3 linked regions of the Homo sapiens genome follow. The protein of the gene in region 1 interacts with the protein of each later gene in a pairwise test. Each region holds a gene or a part of one and is shown in the gene's direction. Other genes may lie near its edges. The genes, in order: NUP50, KPNA5 and CCP110.

The links.
Region 2: the proteins of NUP50 (region 1) and KPNA5 interact in binary tests that used the Homo sapiens proteins (3 or more experiments, as listed by UniProt).
Region 3: the proteins of NUP50 (region 1) and CCP110 interact in binary tests that used the Homo sapiens proteins (3 or more experiments, as listed by UniProt).

The regions. Positions count from the first base shown.
Region 1 is NC_000022.11:45,180,809-45,187,926, forward strand, and holds part of NUP50 (nuclear pore complex protein Nup50), read left to right. Parts: intron 1-477; coding exon 478-559; intron 560-2,593; coding exon 2,594-2,712; intron 2,713-3,644; coding exon 3,645-3,847; 3' UTR 3,848-7,118. UniProt on the Homo sapiens protein: Component of the nuclear pore complex that has a direct role in nuclear protein import. Actively displaces NLSs from importin-alpha, and facilitates disassembly of the importin-alpha:beta-cargo complex and importin recycling.
Region 2 is NC_000006.12:116,726,129-116,733,246, forward strand, and holds part of KPNA5 (importin subunit alpha-6), read left to right. Parts: intron 1-366; coding exon 367-494; intron 495-3,434; coding exon 3,435-3,613; intron 3,614-6,007; coding exon 6,008-6,195; 3' UTR 6,196-7,118. UniProt on the Homo sapiens protein: Functions in nuclear protein import as an adapter protein for nuclear receptor KPNB1. Binds specifically and directly to substrates containing either a simple or bipartite NLS motif.
Region 3 is NC_000016.10:19,547,915-19,553,999, forward strand, and holds the end of CCP110 (centriolar coiled-coil protein of 110 kDa), read left to right. Parts: intron 1-40; coding exon 41-100; intron 101-600; coding exon of another isoform or gene 601-686; intron 687-3,281; coding exon 3,282-3,357; 3' UTR 3,358-5,494; downstream 5,495-6,085.

The DNA.
Region 1 (7,118 bases):
TTGGAATGATTTTTCTGACAACTTGTCCCCTGTTAAAAAAAAAAAAAGTATTTTTCTATCTTTGGCTATTACTGATACTTGTAGATGTAGTCACAGGAATATTCAGGGGTGAAGGTGTTAAAAACTCATCCGAGATGGAATTTTCCAGTGGGTAATTTGCATATAGAGTGTTGATTTTTTTTTTCTGTCATAAGCATGGAGATTTTTCCATTTTAAGGTTTTCTATATATTGGAAGTTATTTTAGAATTAAGAGGTATGTTCCCATTAAAAGGGATTCTTATTTTTCACAAAATAGTTAAAATCCTGCAGGTACTCCCTTCTGGCATCCCCCCCCCCCCCCATTAAGTGTGCATTTTAGTCTGTCAGTTTACATGGAGTGCTCCGGTGGAGGTTTAGGGTGTTACGTAACAAAACTTCAGTCACTTCTTTAAGCTCTGGATTGGAATCTTACTGAATTATTGTCATTTTTATAAAAGGTGGAGATGAAGAAGAGAATGATGAGCCACCCAAAGTAGTAGTTACCGAAGTAAAAGAAGAAGATGCTTTTTACTCCAAAAAGTAAGAATCCCCACAACCTGCTGGCGCATGTGTTTTGCAGGCATGGTGGCATGCTTCAGGCTGGAGAATGTCCTCACGGCACTTGACTGAGCTTCCAGTCTCGGGGTCAAGCTTTGCCTGCTCTCAAGTGGAACAGGAAAGAATTCTTGGCCAGTTTATTTAAAAATCCAGTTCTAGAAATGTCCTGGTGGGCAGGTCTCACTCTTTTCTGTCACTTTAGCTCTTTTAAAGTGCTTTAGAGACAGGATCTTCCATGATCTTCCCAACCCCATCCCATCCCATCCCATTCCATCCCGTCTTCTCTCCCTGTGTCTTTCTCCCTCCCCTTCCTCCTCCCCAACAAAGAAATCGCAGAGTCAGTCAGTGATTTCAGGTTTGGCCTCAGAAGGCATCTCTCATCCCTTCCTGGAGACTTGGTTGGCCTTTCTGGATTTTCTCATAGTCAAAAAGTTAAGCACAGTAACCGTCCCTTCCTGTTGAGGACTTATAAAAACTTTCATCTTCCTTTCAATTAAATGAGATTAGTTTTTACAAAGATATTTGCTGAAAAAACATCTGTGCCATTTCAGAAGCTTTCAAAGATGTGTTTTTGTAATGCAAAAATTTCCGAATAATGAGCCAGCAGTTTTCCATGAACAGGTCACCACATCCTGTGGGATTCCCAGGTGTTAGTTTCAAGAACTTTTAAAAGAGGCCAACAATTTCTTCTGTGTTTAAATTTCATTACTCACATGACATAAAGGAGTGACCCAACTTTAAGATTTTTTTTTTTTTTAATTAGAATCAAATGAGGCCAGGCATGGTGGCTCATGCCTGTAATCCCAGCACTTTGGGAGGCTGAGACAGGCAGATCACCTGAGGTCAGGAGTTCCAGACAAACCTGGCCAACATGGTGAAATCCCGTCTCTACTAAAAATATGAAAATTAGCCTAATGTGGTGGCGCACGCCTGTAATCCCAGCTGTTTGGGAGGCTGAGGCATGAGAATTGCTTGAACCCTGAGAAGCAGAGGTTGCAGTGAGCCAAGATCATGCCACTGCACTCCAGCCTGGGCCACAGAGTAAGACTGTCTCAAAAGAAATACATAAATCAATACATGAGCCATGGTTTTGTATTAATAACCTCAGGAGATGCATAGCACAGGAGGCTGGGAAGATATTTGATTACTTTGTTATTAGTTAGACCCTACCCAAGAATGTTTTCCAAATTTATTTAAAAATGTTGTGCAATCAAAAACTGAAAGAGCCTTGAGGTTTGTTTTTTTTTTTTTTTTTTTGAGACGGAGTCTCTTTCTGTCACCCAGGCTGGAGTGCAGTGGCACAATCTCGGCTCACTGCAAGCTCCGCCTCCCAGGTTCATGCCATTCTCCTGCCTCAGCCTCCCGAGTAGCTGGGACTACAGGTGCCCGCCACCACGCTCAGCTAATTTTTTGTATTTTTAGTAGAGACGGGGTTTCACCGTGTTAGCCAGGATGGTCTCAATCTCCTGACCTCATGATCTGCCTGCCTCGGCCTCCCAAAGTGCTGGGATACAGGCGTGAGCCACCGCACCTGGTCGAGGAGAATTTTTAAAATAAGAAATAGGCCACAAAAAAAAAAGGAGGGAGAGGTGGGCGAGATAGGACAGGGTCTTTGTCCTTTATTTGTTCCTGTCTTTAGAGGACCAGATCGGCGATCTTGAGCTCAGGGCCAAAGGAGCAGAATGGCAGGGGTTGGGGGCGGGGGGGGGGGGGGGTTGGTGTTGAGCCCTGATTTTGACTGACTTGAGAACACAGTTTCAGAAAGTGTTATAAAAAGTTTCATGGGGCCCACTGTTTAATTTGAAAAAATGGGGAGGAGTTTTAAAATCTCTAAGCAGATTTTCTTATTCTGGTTTTTGCTCAGGCTCTGTTTGGATCAATTAAAGATTTATCCTGAAGCTTCCTGTACTCATTTAATAGAGATTTTCCACACAAGTGTGAAGAGTGGTTGTTAGAAAACTGTGTGACTTGATTCGTCCTTGAATGCTTGATGGTCCCTATTATTTTTCTCCATAGGTGTAAACTGTTTTACAAGAAAGACAATGAGTTTAAAGAGAAAGGCATAGGTACTCTGCATTTAAAACCTACAGCAAATCAGAAGACACAGCTTTTGGTGCGGGCAGACACCAATTTAGGTGGGTACCTTTTTTCAGTTAGCACAAAATCATCATCACATAGTATATAAAAGCGTTTACCCTGCTGACTCAAGGTTATTAATATGTTTTTAAACAGAGCGCATTCAGGCCAAATTCATCCTGTATTTACTTATTTATAGTTTTGAGTCCCAGGATAATAGTGTGTAAGGAAACATAAATGTGTTAGAAGCTGTAAACAAAATGATTTTTCATTTTCCTTTGTGTTAGAAATGTGACTAAGAAGCTAGAGATTAGACCATTTAATGAACACCCAAGGGAAATTAACCTTTTAAAGGAATCCTTTTTATATAGCAAGTAATGACTAACTGCTTGCTGTCCATCCTCAGTTTTAACCTGAAAAGAGTCCACTGCAAGGATCCTAGTGCCCGGAGGAGGAGGAAGACGGGGCAGGCCTGCGGTGGAGCGGGCAGTAGTGGTAGAGAACAGGGGGCTGTGTTGCAGAAACTCCAGGGAGGCATTTTTCTTTCCCGTGGGCTTGACTAGGGAGTAATAACATGGTCGTGTCACTTTTGCCCAGGGAGCTGTGCCGGCCTGTGACAGAGGTGTCCTTTGTCCGTGTGGCGCAGTGAAGACACTGGGTTGTGCCACCGTGTTCTTCCTTCAGTGCAAAGACGGACAGTGTTGAGAGGGCTGACGGTTCTGAGCGAGGCTGCTGGCTCTGAGAGAAACGCTGTGTGGGTGCAGAGACCCGGGCTGGAGGGAGGACGGAAGGCCACTCCTCACAGTGAGGGCAAGTGCTCCCCGAGGCCTCCCAGTTCTCAGGGAACCAGTCCTGATTTTGTGCTGTCCTGTTGGCTCCCTGTCTTAGATGTATTAAGTTATTTCAGCATTTAATGTTTAGCATATTACAGACTCCTTTGGTGGAGCTATAGCTTCTATAATTTTGATGGGTTTTGTTTGTTTGAATGCAGGCAACATATTGCTGAACGTTCTGATTCCACCCAATATGCCATGTACGCGAACAGGGAAGAATAACGTTCTTATCGTCTGTGTTCCAAATCCACCAATTGACGAGAAGAATGCCACCATGCCAGTCACCATGTTGATTCGGGTAAAAACCAGCGAGGATGCAGACGAGTTGCACAAAATTTTACTGGAGAAAAAGGATGCCTGAACACGCAAAGTCGGCTGCAGAATTATTGCCAAGTTGCTGCTGCTTCCACCGCCCCTTAAAGTTAGTCAGTTTTTCTTCTCTTCTTTGACATTCTAAGAACTTATAGATAACTTAAAACTTTTGTGAGGAAGATTAATGTGGCCAATAAAACCTTTAAATGTTAAGTGTCAAGAAACTGCACTCTCCCTTCTTAAGAACTGCCTAAAGTGTAAAATACATTTGAATGCAATTTTTGGAAGATTTTTTAATGTTCGTTTATTAAACTAACCCTAAGTGATTTCTTCAAGGACTGCAATCAGGGTATCAATTTGCTTTCCCAAAGGCTCTTCCAACCCGTGGGTTTTGGGGTCCACCGCCACCACGAGAGAGGCTTTTGAACAGGTGCCTGGCTGTGTTCAGAAGGAAGCTGGCCTGTGTGCTTCTCTCCGGTGGGCTCAGCCGACGTGTGAGACTTGTTCTGTTACCAAATGAACCGGGCTGCCACGCTGTGACAGGCGTTTGTCCTCTGCTTTATTTTTACTTTGAAGCTCAAATGCGAGTACTAAGTGTTCACCTCAGCGTTCGAATCATTGGCCTGTAACCCTGTGGGCTGCTTCACGAGAATTCAGGACCTGCATTTTCATTCTAAAAAGAAATGAACAGCTTGTGAAGGAGTTTTTTGGCTTCATAGTTTCTATTCATGAGGTAGTGTTACTTCTTTATCCCCCTAAAGACAAAATGAAGATAAAGGGGGATTGCCAGGAATGGGTTTAAAAGCACAAATGTGGTAGCTTATCATCTACACCATGGAGAGTGAACCCTTACGAAATGAAAGTCAAATGAGACCATCCGAGAAAAAGATGCGCATAGGCATTTGTACCATGATCAACCCCACGCACATGAAAACTGTGACCAAGTGACGTGCCTGGGAGCTTTGACACACGAGCCGTGTGAATTCACTAGGAAACATGTAATAAAGTCATGGAAGAGAAAATCGTGTGTAAACTTTGCCTTTAACTTTAGACCGCAGTATATTATAATACATTTGATATCTGAAATATCTTTACTTTTTTAAGAGTAAGATTCCATATGTCTGTCTGGAAGGGAGCCATGGTTATTCACACGAATATCCCTGTCACTTCTCCAGAGGTGTCAGGTAACTAACACGAGCATTCTTTGAAGACTCTGGGCACATGAATGATACACAGAATTGAATGTTTAAATTTCCACTGAGTCCTCATGAATCATTTGAGACTAGTACCAGCTGATCTTGTGTACAGGCTCAGGGTCAGTGCCCAAGGGCTCCCGCGTGTGTGTTCTGATCTTCAGTGCGTAGCACATTCTCCATTTAGAAAAGAGTGGTCAGAATAATTGTGGACGGTACAGTGGCTTTTTAAAACTACAGTCTTTAGGTGTAAGGTTTGGCGCCGGGAGCAATTTTATGATCAAATATGATGAACTCCTAAGTCACTGAGGTGTGATTGGGCCAATGTTGGCATGAGGTTCTTGCTCTACTTCCAGTGTTTTGATTCCACTGGGAGAATTTGGCCTAGTGTGTGGCTTTGGATGAATCCGTGTAGAGAGAGGTGAGCTTGTCCTGTTACAGATGCTGTCAGACATAGCGATAGTAGGCACCTAGGGAGGAAGTGGCCGTTAGTTTTACACTGACTTTTTAAGAATGGAGAATGCACGTGGGTTTCTGTTGCGGATGATTCATAGTAAGCAAGCGGTTGATGCTGTTAATACCGGCCCCACCCGATTGACATTAAGTTTATTCAGCTTTTAAAAAGATGAAGAACTAAGGGGAACAAATTTAAGTTTGTTGCAACTTAGCCACACATGCTTCCCTGGTACCAGCTGGAATCAGCAGCTCACAGGCATCTTCAGGACACTTCAGTGTATATGACACAGTACTTTGTTAGCGTCTGCGTGTGTATGGAAAGTTGACAAAAAATGGCATGAAAAGATCATGATTGGATTTTCTTTTAAACCTGCCCTTCTGTAAAAAATAGTTTATATATTTTTAAATTAGTAGGTATGTGTGGCTTCCTTTTTTCCTAACATTCCCAGCAAATTTTTGCTGCTAAGACTATCACTGTTAAAGTGAAAATTACAGGGAAAAATGTGATGAATATACCGTAACTCAAAATGTGATATTTTCTTAAAATCACTCTTTTATGCTTTAGGAACTGGTTGGTCTCCACTTTGATTATTAGTGTAAAGAGCCTGAGTATACGTGGATTTCATTGTAAAATTTAACTCCTTGTCTTTTACTTGGGGCACGGGGCCCCTGGAGGGCTTCCCTACTTTCCCCACTATGTTAACAGGTAATTCTGATTTATGCGTTTAGTTTGACTTATTTTTAACAAAATATTAGAAGTTATGCTTTAAAATGTTTAATGTGGACTGAAATTTTCATCTTTTGTTTGAGAATCTATGAAGTGTATCATATACGTGGCCTAAAGCAAGGTGTGTATTTTGTTATTCTGAAATTGTTTTGCATCTGGACAAATACTAAATATCCCAGTGGCCTTTTTTTTTTTTTTTTTAAAACCTGTGTATCCATCTCATCCTTTTGCGCATTCCTAGTAAGCAAAAAAATTTGTTATGCCATCTTCATTATTCGAATTACAGACTGAAAAAATATGGCCAGTTTTTAAAGAAGTTTAGATTATGTTTTCCATGGAAGGACAAGTCTGACTGTTCATAGGCTGATTTTCTTTAAGAGGATTATTCTGTTTTACAATTTCAATTCTAGATCACATTTTATATATGCTGCATGCCAAAAAAAAAAAAAAGAGAAAACTGCCTTTTCTGGTGTGGAGGGGAAGAAAAACTAATATTCTACCTTACTAGTAGAGTTCAAAACAAGTTTTCACTGAGAGCCTTTTCAGTAAAAGTTAAACAAGTTTGTTTTTTGAGCATTTGTCAGTTATTCTATTTCAGAAGAGTCAAAATTCAAGCACGATACATTTTGAAGGCTTTGCAAACTCCTAAACCCCTGATGAGTCCTCTCATTCTGGAAGTGGGAATTTGAGTAGATACTGATTTGTCCCGTAGTATGGCAGATGACAGGGAGGTCTTTTCCAAGCAGGCACTCAGAACACAGGTCACCGTATGTTCTCAGCCAGTAACAATCATACTGAGGACGAAGGACTCTCCGTTTGATGCAGACACAATTGTAATGGAGATGTAAAACTTCTTAGCAATCAGATGGATAAATTGTTTGCTTTTTACTTTAAATAGGAAATTGTTTTCTAAAACTAAAATACTTGAATTGTCAGACAATATA
Region 2 (7,118 bases), on another chromosome or scaffold:
TTTTTTGCATTAGTTTTAAATAAGTTATGCAATAATCTTCCTCTCAAAGCTTTTAATGATTTATTAGGGTTCTATCAAGCTTCTTGTGTCAGTGATTACTTATCCATTTTGATCAGTCACATGGCTTGTGCTTTATCATCTCTAAAATTTATATTTTGCTATTCTCCAGTCTTTAAAAAGCTAATTTCCTATGTAAAAAGAAAAATATTTGAAAAGTTTGCTGACAGAATAGAAATTAAAAATTTATTTTAATGTCAAGGTTCCAAAAACCTTGACATTTTGAAGCCATTGAGTTTCAAGATTTTTTTTACTGGTAATATTTTAGAAACAGTATTTGTACTGATTATATATTTTTCCCCCTCTCAGGCTGTTATAGATGCAAATATTTTTCCTGTTTTGATTGAGATTCTTCAGAAAGCAGAGTTTCGTACCAGAAAAGAAGCAGCTTGGGCTATAACTAATGCAACATCAGGAGGTACTCCAGAGCAAATAAGGTATGATATAAACTTCTTAATTGTTTTTTACATGTAAATGAGACAAAAGTTGAAATAAAACATATTTTAATTTACTGATGGAACTAAAATATTATTTCTAAGTCAGTTTGATAATATGAAATGACAGCATGTATTATATCAGTTACTCATTCACAATTTTTTTTTCCCCATTTAACGTGTAATTAACATCATTCTCCTTGATAGGCTGCTTAAGAAAAATCAGAGATTAAAAAATCCAAACGGGAACGGTCTATGTTAATTTGCAGAGTACACTGTCATGGGCATTAAATATTTTTTAATCACAAAAATATAGCTTTATTATATAGAAATGGCTAATAAATTTGAATATCCACTTACTTTAAATAAAATTGAAATAGACATTGTTTATATGGTGATGTTCTGGTCCTCATTGATTGTTAGCCTTGCCTATGGATAGTATCTTTTATTTTTCTATACTAGTTACCTTTTTTTTATATTAGCTTTTTGAGTCTAGGCTTTTTAAATTTATTTATTCTGCTGACAATGTAAATAATAGGTGCATGGGCTTTTAAGTCAGCCTGATTTCAAATCCTGCTCCTTCAGTAAAAGTTGTGTGGTCTTGACAAAGTCATTTAACCCCTCTAATCTAGTTTCTTCATTTTAAAAAATGAGTTCCAGTAATGAATAGTTATGGCAGTGTAAGTCAGCCTTCCATATCCTTGGGTTTTGCATCTGTGGATTCAACCACCTGCAGGTCAAAAATATTAAAAAAGAAAAAGACAGTAAAAAATGCCAGTACAACACTACAAAATAATGCAAATTTAAAAACACAATACAACAATTAGTAACATCATAGCAATTACATTGTTTTAGGTATTATAAGTAATCTAAAGATAATTTCAAATACTTGGAAAGATATGCATAGGTTGTATGCAAATACTATGCCATTTTATATAAAGGAATTGAGCATCTGTGGATTTTGGTATTGAGAGGAAGGGTGTCTTGGAACCAATCTCCGATGAAACCGAGGGACTGTATCTTGATAGTTAAGTGAAATTTATGTCTTTGAAGTGTCAGCACAGTGCCTAAACATATTATTAATAACTAATAGATAATTAAGAATAGCTACTGTTATTATTTGTAATCATCATAATTTTTATTATCAGTATTGATTCCTGAATCTTTTATCATGTACTTTCACTCTTTTTTATCTCCCATAGCAAAGTTTCACTTACACCTCTACTAAAAGCTTCTACAGAATCGTCTTGTTCGGAGGATCCCTCCATGAAACTAGACTTCTTAGAAAATATTTTCTAATGCATATTTGATTTATTTTTCAATTTATAAAACAAGTCAAACTACAGTGCTATTTTATAAATCACATAATTTTGAAATCTACCTATTGTGAAATTGTCGTCTTTTATTGCCTTCATTTGTAGTATTATCTTGCTCTCTCAAATTTGTATAGCTGTATATTGCTAGCATCTGTCTCTGCCTTTTATTTTCTATTCTATCTCTTTGCTTTCATCAGTATTTCCACTTTGTGTCATGGATACAAGCAGTAATAAATGAAGACCCTTCCTTTGTTCTATTTTGTATTTTTTTAATGTTGATGTTACTTTTATTTTATTTGGGCTGCAAGTTTGTTCACCTGCAAATAGTTGTATTTTTTCAATTAATTTTTGTGGTTATATCTATTCTGTATATTATTGCTTTAATTTATTAGTATGGATTAAGTATCCAAACTGAGATAATTATTTTTCTAACCACTTTTATCATTTCATTAAGTTTGCATATTTGGGAAAAGACCTCTTGATCTCAGATTAAGTTATGCATCCATACCACTAGTTGAGTGCCTACTATTGCCAGTTATTGTGCTAAGTAAGTCATTTCAGTTATTGAGCACCAGCAATGTGTCTGGTACTTTCATGTATTTTATCTCCTGTAATCTCTTAACTATGAGGCAGTTATTCATTCAACAGATATTTTTGACCAATTACAGTACAGTATAGGGCAAATGAGTGCTCTGGTGAAGGTATATACATCTTTTTTTTTTAAGAGGGACAGAAACTTTTATTAAATGTCTATTGTGTTCTTACAACTACTCTCTGAAGTTGGTACTATTATTATTCCCATTTTTAAGATGGGGAAACTGAGACACAGAGTAATTGCTCAAGGTCACACAACTAATAAGGGGTGGAATTGGGACTTGAAGGCACACAGCCTGGCTTCATAGTATGTTTTTAACCTTTGTACTTAATATGGACTTTTTGCCAAGTGAACAAATCAGTTACTTCATTTACATTATAGAGTACAGAAAACCAGCCAATAACTAGAAAAGGACATGCATTCAGAAATTAAAGAATTTTTTTGTGAATATTATTTATGAACATTATTCACAAGAGAGCCTGTTTTGTTCCTACAGGCCTTCTATCCTTCTGAAACACAGTATATGTTTCAGAACATTAGCTGTGATTGTTTTTATGGGAAATTTTCTCAAGTTTAATTTAGATGTCTCTTCTTTCTTTCCATTTCTGTCTACCCCCATATGACCTCCGTGTGTGTGTGTGTGTGTGTGTGTGTGTGTGTGTGTGTGTGTCTGTGTGTAGGCTTGCCTTTAAAAAAAAAAAAAAACAACCTTTCGAACCTACGTTTAATGCTCAGATGAGCACCATGAAAAACAGGCCGAAGTACCAGTTTGTGTCTGTATTTTATAGTCTTTGCAAGACCATTTATTGCTAATTATGTTAAATTAGAGAATAGGTGAGTAAAGAAAATTTTAAGTTTCCTATGTGAGAATTTAAATGTGTGTAATGTTTGCATTTGTATAGGAATACTTTTTCTTAATTGCTTATGTAACATTTCACTATGAAAAATATTTTTGTGTCATTGTTACAAACAGTACTTAAGTCTTTTTAAATCTTTTTTTCCCTGTTTCTTCTCTTTTATATTAATCTGAAGGTATTTGGTAGCTTTAGGCTGCATTAAACCACTTTGTGATCTTTTGACTGTTATGGACTCCAAAATAGTCCAAGTGGCTTTAAATGGACTTGAAAATATTTTACGTCTTGGAGAACAAGAATCTAAGCAGAATGGAATAGGCATTAATCCATACTGTGCTCTCATTGAAGAAGCATATGGTAAGCAATCAGTTAAAAATTTGCAATTATAGTCAGTTCTTATATCTGTCATACTTTCCCCTTCCAGTTCCCTACAATTTTTTTGTTGTAAAAGCAGTATGTATTTTTTTAAGTTTTAAAATGTCACCCGTAATTTTATTACCCTAACAATTTATTTTTATTATTTACCTTTTTTTAACATTGTCTGTATGCACAAATACTTTACATTGACTTAATTGTATTGTATGTATAGTTTTATGTTCTACTTTTTAACATTTTGGAGAAATTTTACATTTCTACATAATTTTTATTATAATGGCCACATAATGTTATGTATATACTATATATATATAAAAATATGTAATTTTTTTTTTTTTTTTTTTTGAGACACAGTTTTACTCCGTCTCCCAGGCTGGAGTGCGGTGGTGTGGTCTTGGCTCACTGAAACCTCCACCTCCCATGTTCAAGCAATTCATGTGCCTCAGCTTCCTGAGTAGCTGGGATTACAGGTGCATGCCACCATGCCCGGCTGATTTTTGTATTTTTAGTAGAGACGGGGTCTCTCCATGTTGGCTAGACTGGTCTCGAGCTCCTGGCCTCAAGTGATCCAGCCACCTCAACCTCCCAAAGTGCTGGAATTACAGATATGAGCCACCATGTCTGGCCATAATGCTACATATTGAGTCAAGTTTTAGCCATTTGAATGGAAGTTTAACCATAACCTGTTGTTGACCATTAGTTTGTTCCCAGTTTATCACTTTATGTATACCAAAATAAGCATCTTTCTGTGTATATGTTTATTTCTTTTATGGAATTAATATCTGGGGATAAATTTTCAGGAATACAGTTGCTGAGTCTTAGGGCACTGACTTCTTTTTAAGCTTTTGATGTCTTCTCATTTTGCTTTCCAAAGGCCTGTTGCTGACAGTGTCACTGGCATTGTATGAATCTATTCTACAACCTCATACTTGTTTTGTTTATTTTGTGGACTCAGCAGATGTAAAATAGTACACCAAGTTGCTTTTATGTACATTTTTTGGTTTATTTCCTATAGATAGTAGTATGTATTTTTCATGAGTTAGTCTGTGTCCTTATCCAAATTGCATATTTATTGTACTTTGTCTGGTTATCTATTTGACTTTTTTTTTTGGTAAAAATTTGAATTTTATTTTATAGTAGTTTATTTTGATATGACTTTTTCCTCGGTCTATTTTTTTTCAGATCATCCATTGAACACATTCTTTTATTTTAATAAAACATACCATGTTCATTTATGTTTAAATAACTCAGTCTAATTTTCTATTCTTTCAAAGTTTACAAAGTCATTGCCTCCACAGAGATTTGATGAAAATTAATTTTTTTATTTGCCAAGTTTTAAAAATTAGGTTCTTAAAACATTTAATCATATGGAATTTATTTTAGATAAGGCATGAATCTAAATTGATTTTCTTTTATTTGCATTAAATATTCACTTTTCTGTATTAAGTCCTCTTACATTGTATGGGTGATTCAGACTTTTATTTTTGATTCTTAAAGCCCATGATATCACTTTGTCTTTCTTTCAAATTATATAACATCACTGGATAAGACATTACATGAATACAAGATATTAGTCACTGATTTAAGAATATTGTCTTACTACAGTCATTATTTTGACCCCGAGTCAGACTAGGGTTTGAGCTATTCTGTGATTGTGTATAGATAGGACTGCTTTGCTGCTTTTTTTTCTGTGATAATCTGATTGAAGTCGTTTATCTGTAATTAAATGAAATGTATTTTCAGCACTACCCAGACTTACGTGTAGAGCTTTTTCTGATAAGCAGTAAAATCGATTGCTATAGATTCTTCTCATCTTTTCAAAATGAGGCCTTTCAGTTTCAATTGTAGATTGTAATTCTTTTAAACCGCACAACAGCCATATGTTTTTTATTGTATGGGTTTGGAAATTTTACACATTTATTTCATAGTGATACTCTCTGGCTCAGCGTGTTTTATTTTCTTCATTTAATTTGTTTTGTTGCTTTCCCTTTTTGGGCTTTGTTAATTACTCTAGAAAGGACCTGTGGAGTTAATCTAAAACTGCCATTTTACAGTTGAGAAACAGAAGAACTAAACTTACCTGGCCAAGATCACACACCTAGCAGGGTGGTGTCTGTGATCTTACTCCCAGGCCTATGGTCCTTCTTCGTATGACACTGCTACATACTCTCATTCTTGAAGTATAAATCGTAAGTGATGGCTATCGGTATGTGCAACAGTTAGATTAAAATAGTCCCGTTGCCAGTGAGGTGATAGATGATGTTCACTTATTATTTTGATTTAAACATATACTGAAATTGTAGTAACAGTTTGTTTATATATATATATATATATATATATATATATATATATATATATATATACTTTGTATAACAGGTCTGGATAAAATTGAGTTTTTGCAAAGCCATGAAAATCAGGAAATTTACCAGAAGGCATTTGATCTGATTGAACATTACTTTGGTGTAGAAGAAGATGACCCCAGCATTGTACCTCAGGTGGATGAAAACCAACAACAGTTTATATTTCAGCAGCAGGAAGCACCAATGGATGGATTTCAACTTTAACTTACTGGAGGAAAAAAAATTTATGGCTAAAAAGGGTAGCTTCAGGTAACTCCTCTTTGTTGCCAATGTAAGAATGTTTGTTTTTTTACATAGAACAGTAAAGAGAATTTGATGCACTTTTAGAAAGCAAAATGAAACAAAAATTTCCATTCAGATGCAACCTTTCATTGTAGTTTGTTGTTGTTTTAGTTTTGTTGTTGTGCCTGTATTTATATCTTCTATTGTTTGGATTTTTGTATCTATTTGTGAATAATTGAATATGCAATTATTTAGTAATTTAAGCTTGAAAAGGAGAATTTTGGTGAAGCATTACTTAGTAATTCTGAATTTTTTCAAGCATTCTTGGAAACTGCACATTAGCAGTAAACCTATTGATAATTGCATTTTGGCAGTAAGTCTTACACATCTAATCTCTACTAAATCTACCTCTATCTTGAAGCAGAAATAAAAACAAAAAAGCTTCAGAAGCATGAAATAATGCAAATGCTAAATTAGAATGTGAAAATATTTATTACCTTAAATTATACATATCACTGTGCTGTAGGTTATACTTTGCAAAAAATTGCAACAGAAAACCTATAAAATTTATTTATAAAACAGAAGAAATATTATACTGATAATCCATTAAAATGTGGCAATTGTGAAGGGAGAAGCTGTTTTTCATGTTGAACACATTAAAAAGATTACTTTATAAAATGTTTAAATATTTCTGTTTTTAACATATAAGTGCTATGTATATTAGTATATTTTGTATTTCAACCAAATATGCTACCATTTTTGAAATAGTGTTTTATTGTTTTTCACTCATTGTTTTAAAGAGCATCATGACAGAGATGTCATCATGAATCTAAAGTAGTGCTGCATATCTAAAATAATAACTAATTATTTCTCTGATTTTTCAGAGCAGTAATTGAAAAGTTTCA
Region 3 (6,085 bases), on another chromosome or scaffold:
TTAACCTATTAAATTAATTTTTCATTTAATTTGTCAACAGAGTCCTTCAGCCAAACCAAGGACAGAATGCACCTGTTCATAGGCTACTTAGTAGACAAGGGTAAGAATGCCACACACGGGTATTGAAAACTACGGAAACCAAGATTAGATTTGAGAGGGAAAAATAAATCTAGTGTTCTTTATGTAAAGGATAATGGTTTTTCAATGGGATTTTTTTTCTTTATAGCATTGGGAAAGATATTTTAAAGTTTTGTCTTCAAATGTAACCCTCTTGGTGTACTGTTGTGTATTCTAATTACTGTCTTAAGTTGGGATGTTTTTACTTTTCATTTCATACCATTTTACTCATAAAGTATTTTAAATATCCATATAGTAAATTCAGCATCACCGAAGTGATTCTCCAACAGAGTATGACTCGTGCTTATAGTCTCCTGCTGAAGCCAGAGTTTAGCTTTCCTTACTGTGCGCATGCATGAGACTTCAGTTCTTTTCAAGCTTATTTGTGCTTTGGACAGTTGATGCAATGTGATTGCTTTCTTTGAATTTTGAACATTTAGACCTTAATGCCAGTGACTTATTAATTTTTTTATATTCAATTAGAACCCCTAAGACATCAGTGAAGGGGGTTGTGCAAAATAGACAGAAGCCTTCACAGAGCAGAGTGCCTAACAGAGTGCCTGTTTCAGGTTTGTAGAAAATAAATTCCTGAAGCCCATTCAATAGAAGGAAGTGCACAAGCTGCCCCATAACTCAGGCCATAGAAGTGGAATAGATTGTCTTTCCTTGCCACCATAATTTTGGCATATTCACAGTCATCTTATTAGTGTTCTTTGGTCTTAGCATTGTATGGCAGTCAGGAAGTCTTAGTAAAAGTGTGATTCCAGTCTTCATTTCTATAATATTTCTGTGGAAAGCACCTTGTATTTTTCATTCTGAAAAAATTGTAGAATTTGCCATGCTTAATTCAGAAAACCTTTTTATTTAATGAATAAAAGATAACGATCATCTCTGGTGCTAAGTCTGTGCATTGTCTGTTCAGCTTGGGGAAGTGTATCTGCACATAAGGGGATAAACTTTCTCCCTCAGACTATAAGATCACATGTGAATATGCCAGTGGGAGGAGGGCTTCATATTTTGCTCAGTCCAAAGCTTGAGCTAAATCTCTCCTTATGTTCATTATTTGAGGATTAAGAGCTAAACTAAAAACTGTATTTTAAAATTCTGTTTATGGTGGCAAGAAGACAAACTCATTCTTGAGCAAATTCAAAGCTCTTAACCAAATGCTTTAATATTTTTTAGGTATCTTTGTTAAGACACTTTGATTAAGCTCACTTAAAAATTATGTGATCCATTTAAAAATACTTTCCAAATGTTGTGCTTTAACTATACTGCTTTCTAGACATTTACAACAAACCTAAATTAATCACCAGGCATTGAAGATTAAACCTTTAATCAATTTTAATCTTTCCATTAATATACAATTAGGCAAATTTTAGAGCTTTATTACTAAGTGATTTCCTTCAAATTAGGAGGGAACAAGCTATTGGTCGTAACTTTGAAATGATGGCTGACCTTTTGTATGTATGTAGTGAAGGTAATTCATAGTGTCACACATATATAGGATAATTTAAAAGATCATCTTTGGAAATCATTGTGAGTGACAGTTAATGGAATTGTCTTAAAGGATTACATAGCTGAAGATACTGTTTACTCCAGAGGCAGTCAGAATAAGCTAGTTTGAAAGATAACCATTTGAAAGGACTCAGACCAAACACCAAACCTGTGGAATTTTAAGACATTTTCTGTTTTTCTCATGTTAGTATTCTATATTGCACTGAAACTTAGCAAGTTGGAAAATCATTGAGGAATTAGTATTGTTTTGCCTGATACCAATTTGCCACAGTGACTACTCTCCATGTTCTTTTCTCATGCATTTCATCTCCACTATTTGTCACTTGTGAACTTATAAGCAAAATAGCAAGTACTGTTTTTATTCAGCAATACTCAACAGTATAAAGGATGTATAGTCAGTCACTGAAGTTAGTAACATACAATGAAGTTCATTATTTTGAACTATTGAGGTTAAATTGCATTGCAACATACTTATTAATACAAATGAACTTAACCCTTGAATTAATATGTATCTAAACAAGTACAAAAGTCTGTTGCTGTTGTTTTCTAAAGATTTACTTATACATGAGTGCATATTTAGACAATTGAAAGAAACTAAATAATTGTGTTCTTTTTTTTTTTTTGAGACAGAGTCTTGTTCTGTTGCCCAGGCTGGAGTGCATTGGTGTGATCTTGGCTCACTGCAATCTCCACCTCCTGGGTTCAAGCCATTCTTCTGCCTGAGCCTCCCAAGTAGCTGGAATTACAGGCGCGTGCCACCATGCCCAGCTAATTTATTGTATTTTTAGTAGAGATGGGGTTTTACCATATTGGCCAGGCTAGTCTCGAACGCCTGACCTCAGGTGATCCGCCCACCTCGGCTTCCCAGAGCTCTGGGATTACAGGTGTAAGCCACCGCGTCCAGCCAGAATTGTATTCTTTTATATAAACTGAGAGTTTGGGATATTGGCTGGTTAAAATGCTAACTATGAATCTGAACACAGGAACTCACTGTCGCTCTTGAAAAGATTACTCTTTCCTGCTTAGAGTTTTAATGGTCTGAATTATGTTTTAAACAAATTTGAAATTATGTTCTGATTTGCTCTAAATGGAGGCAAATCCTTTGTTAAGCAATTTATAGAAAACTAACTTTTCTTATGATAGAATATCATACTCTTAGACTGAAGTAGAATTCTAAAATGTTAAAGTATGCTGCAAAGCATTTAGTTATTTATAGTTTTACAAACCTAAATTGCAATCTCTGATGTTATCGTAAGTGATCTTTGACTTACGGTTTTAAAACACATTTCTTCATTTGATGTTTTGTGCTTGACTAGAGTTTATATAGTGAAATTCAGAAACCACTAATCAAAGCAGAGTAGGAGGTGGTCATGCAAAATGGTTAAGTAAAATAACACATCAGGTGGACTTGGGTTATCAGAGTTCTTCCTTCTAGCTCTGTTCCTTAGGCAACTGCTCTCCTATGCCTCAGTTTTATTATCCTTAAAATGGTCATAACAATTTCTACCTCAGGATGATTCATATAAGGATTAAATATGATAATGTATATTGCCTAGCTCAGTGTTTGTTCCAGAGTAAAAACTCATTAAATGGTATCATTATAGAAAACCTCCCATTGAGAAGTAATACTGGTTTTGCTCTATTTTTAGGAGTATATGCAGGAAAAATCCAAAGAAAGCGGCCAAATGTTGCGACAATTTAAGAAGACAACATTCATTAGGATAAAATGGGGGGAAGGATTATTATTCATGTTATTTTCCCTGCCCAAGACTTTATTTAACCCTGGACTCCGTTTACACAGACAAAGTGACATCAGAAGGCTGAGCACTTATCTGGATCATTTGGTCAGTTTGGTAATTCCTGCTCCACACCCCTATTTTCCTCTTAATAATACGTTTGGGTGAAGACAAATTAGTGTTTAGTAATTGCATCATCTCTGTGCTTACCTATACAAACATAAGTTTATTTTATATGCCCAGATGTCTACAGAGACCCTTTTTGTAAATGTCAAGGACATTTGGATTTACTTTTACAGAATATTGAAAAGATAAGACAAATTATAAATAAGTTCTAAAACATAAATTTAATTCATCTCTGCATAGTGATTTTTGAATTTGATTCAAAGGGAAATTATTGCAGAAGAATGCCTTTCCCTCATTTTATAACTTTAAAAACTTGGATTAACCACTCAATGTCCACTTTCTTTGACTTACAGTATAACCATGTAGCCAATTGTGGCCCACTAAAATCTACAGAAGTTAATGTGGGTCACCATTTTGGTCAGAAGCATACATTCCTGTCAGACAACTAGTTGTCTGACAGAAATGTTAGGCTTCATGTATGTTACCCCAGTACTGTTAGAAACATTTGTACTAGGTTATAAGATCTTTCTGTGACAGGTAACAAATTTGGGGAAGACAGCACAATCTTCTTGAATGTAGCTCTTGGGAATGCATTATTACATCCATTTCTGTAACATAATAATATGTTGCATGCAGTTATATTTTCTATTTAGTCTGTATATTTTGTTCTTCATAGTCTGTTTTTTCTAGCATGCTTGATTTAGGAGAGAATAAAGGGCTATATAATAATAAATCCAGATTTCCGGATAAGAATATTGCCTGGTTAAAATTCTGCATTGCTTAAAGACACCCATGTTTAAGATTTTTCATCACTAACATATCCATTAAAAGTATCAACTGGCCAGGCAGGGTGGCTCACGCCTGTACTCCCAGCATTTTGTGAGGCCAAGGTGGGTGGATCACCTGAGGTCAGGAGTTTGAGACCAGCCTGACCAAACATGGCGAAACCCCATCTGTACTGAAAATACAAAAATTAGGCATGGTGGTGCATGCCTGTAGTTCCAGCTACTTGGGAGGCTGAGACAGGCGAATTGCTTGAACCTGGGAGGCAGAGGTTGCAGTGAGCTGAGACTGTGCCATTGCACTCCAGTCGGGTTAACAGAGCAAGACACTGTCTCAAAAAAAAAAAAAAAAAAAAGTATCAACCAACAAATGTTACCAAGATAACGTGACTTCATGAGGGAGAATGTCACTATTAATTTATCATACCATTTCCAAAAAGGGCTTTGTGCTTTTCACATAAAATTGAGACAGTGTATATTTAATCTAATTTAAATTTTAAAGAGATACTGGTATTTTGAAAATGCAACCTATATATATTCTTAATATCCTTTTAAGAATATGGAGATGAAGATTGTTTTCTCCAATTTTCTGTGCCATTTTAAATTTAACTTTGACATCCAGCTATAGACAGAAATAATAAGCCACCCTGGGTGTAAACTTGATTTTCTTTATTGAGATGTATCATGTATTGAATGAGTGAACCAGAAAATTAGAAGATGGTCAAAAAAAGTCCAAGTTACCAATTTTTTAAAATTTATAGGCAAAGTATCAAATTGTCTTCTTAATATGATAAACTGTGCTTTATCATTCTGAAAACTCAGGATACAGCTTATTCATAGCATTGTGGGTCTCTCCAGTAAGAAAGATGCTAAAAGTTTTGTGCACTTTTTGTGTGTGTAATGCAAATTAGTTAAAACAAATAGTTTTGGAGAAAGTTAAAACTAGCTTTAGAGTAAGGATGAGAAACTTGAGTGTTTTTAATTTAAAGATAAAAGCCTGTGTTTTACACATTCTTTTTTGGTGTTCATAGCTTCTTCTCATACAGGTGCCAGACACTGTTTGTGCTTTTGATGGATTTTTATTTATATACTTTTTTTGCTTATTTTTACTTTGAGTGGAATGTTCATTAATGTAAATTGTATTTATTTTTATACTTTTATTTTCACTAGTTTTGCTTCTAGGCAAAAAGCAAAATAAACTTTTCATCTTAAAGAAAATCTAGTTTGATTGTTTTTATTTACCAGGGGAAGGACTATTAAGAAATAGGCCGGGCATGGTGGCTCATGCCTGTAATTCTAGCACTTTGGGAGGCCAAGGTGGGTGGATCATGAGATCAGGAGTTTGAGATCAGCCTGGCTAACATGGTGAAACCCCGTCTCTACTAAAAATACAAAATTAGCTGGGCGTAGTGGTGCATGCCTGTAGTTCCAGCTACTTGGGAGGCTGAAGCAGGAGAATCGCCTGAGCCTGGGATGGGGAGGCTATAGTGAGCCGAGATTGTGCCACTGCACTGCAGCCTGGGTGACAGAGCAAGACTCCATCTCAAAACAAAACAAAAAAGAAACCGATATTAGCCAGGCATGGTGGTTCACATCTGTAGTCCTAGGTACGCTGGAGGCTGAGGCAGGAGGATCACTTGAACCCAGGAGTTACAGGTGGCAGTGAGCTATAATCGCACCACTGCACTCCAGCCTGAATGAGACTTTGTCTCCAAAACAAAAAAGAAAAAAGAAACAGATATTGAAAAGTATTAGGCCAAAACAAATATTGTATATAATCATTCTTTACAAGTTCCATGAAAGATATAT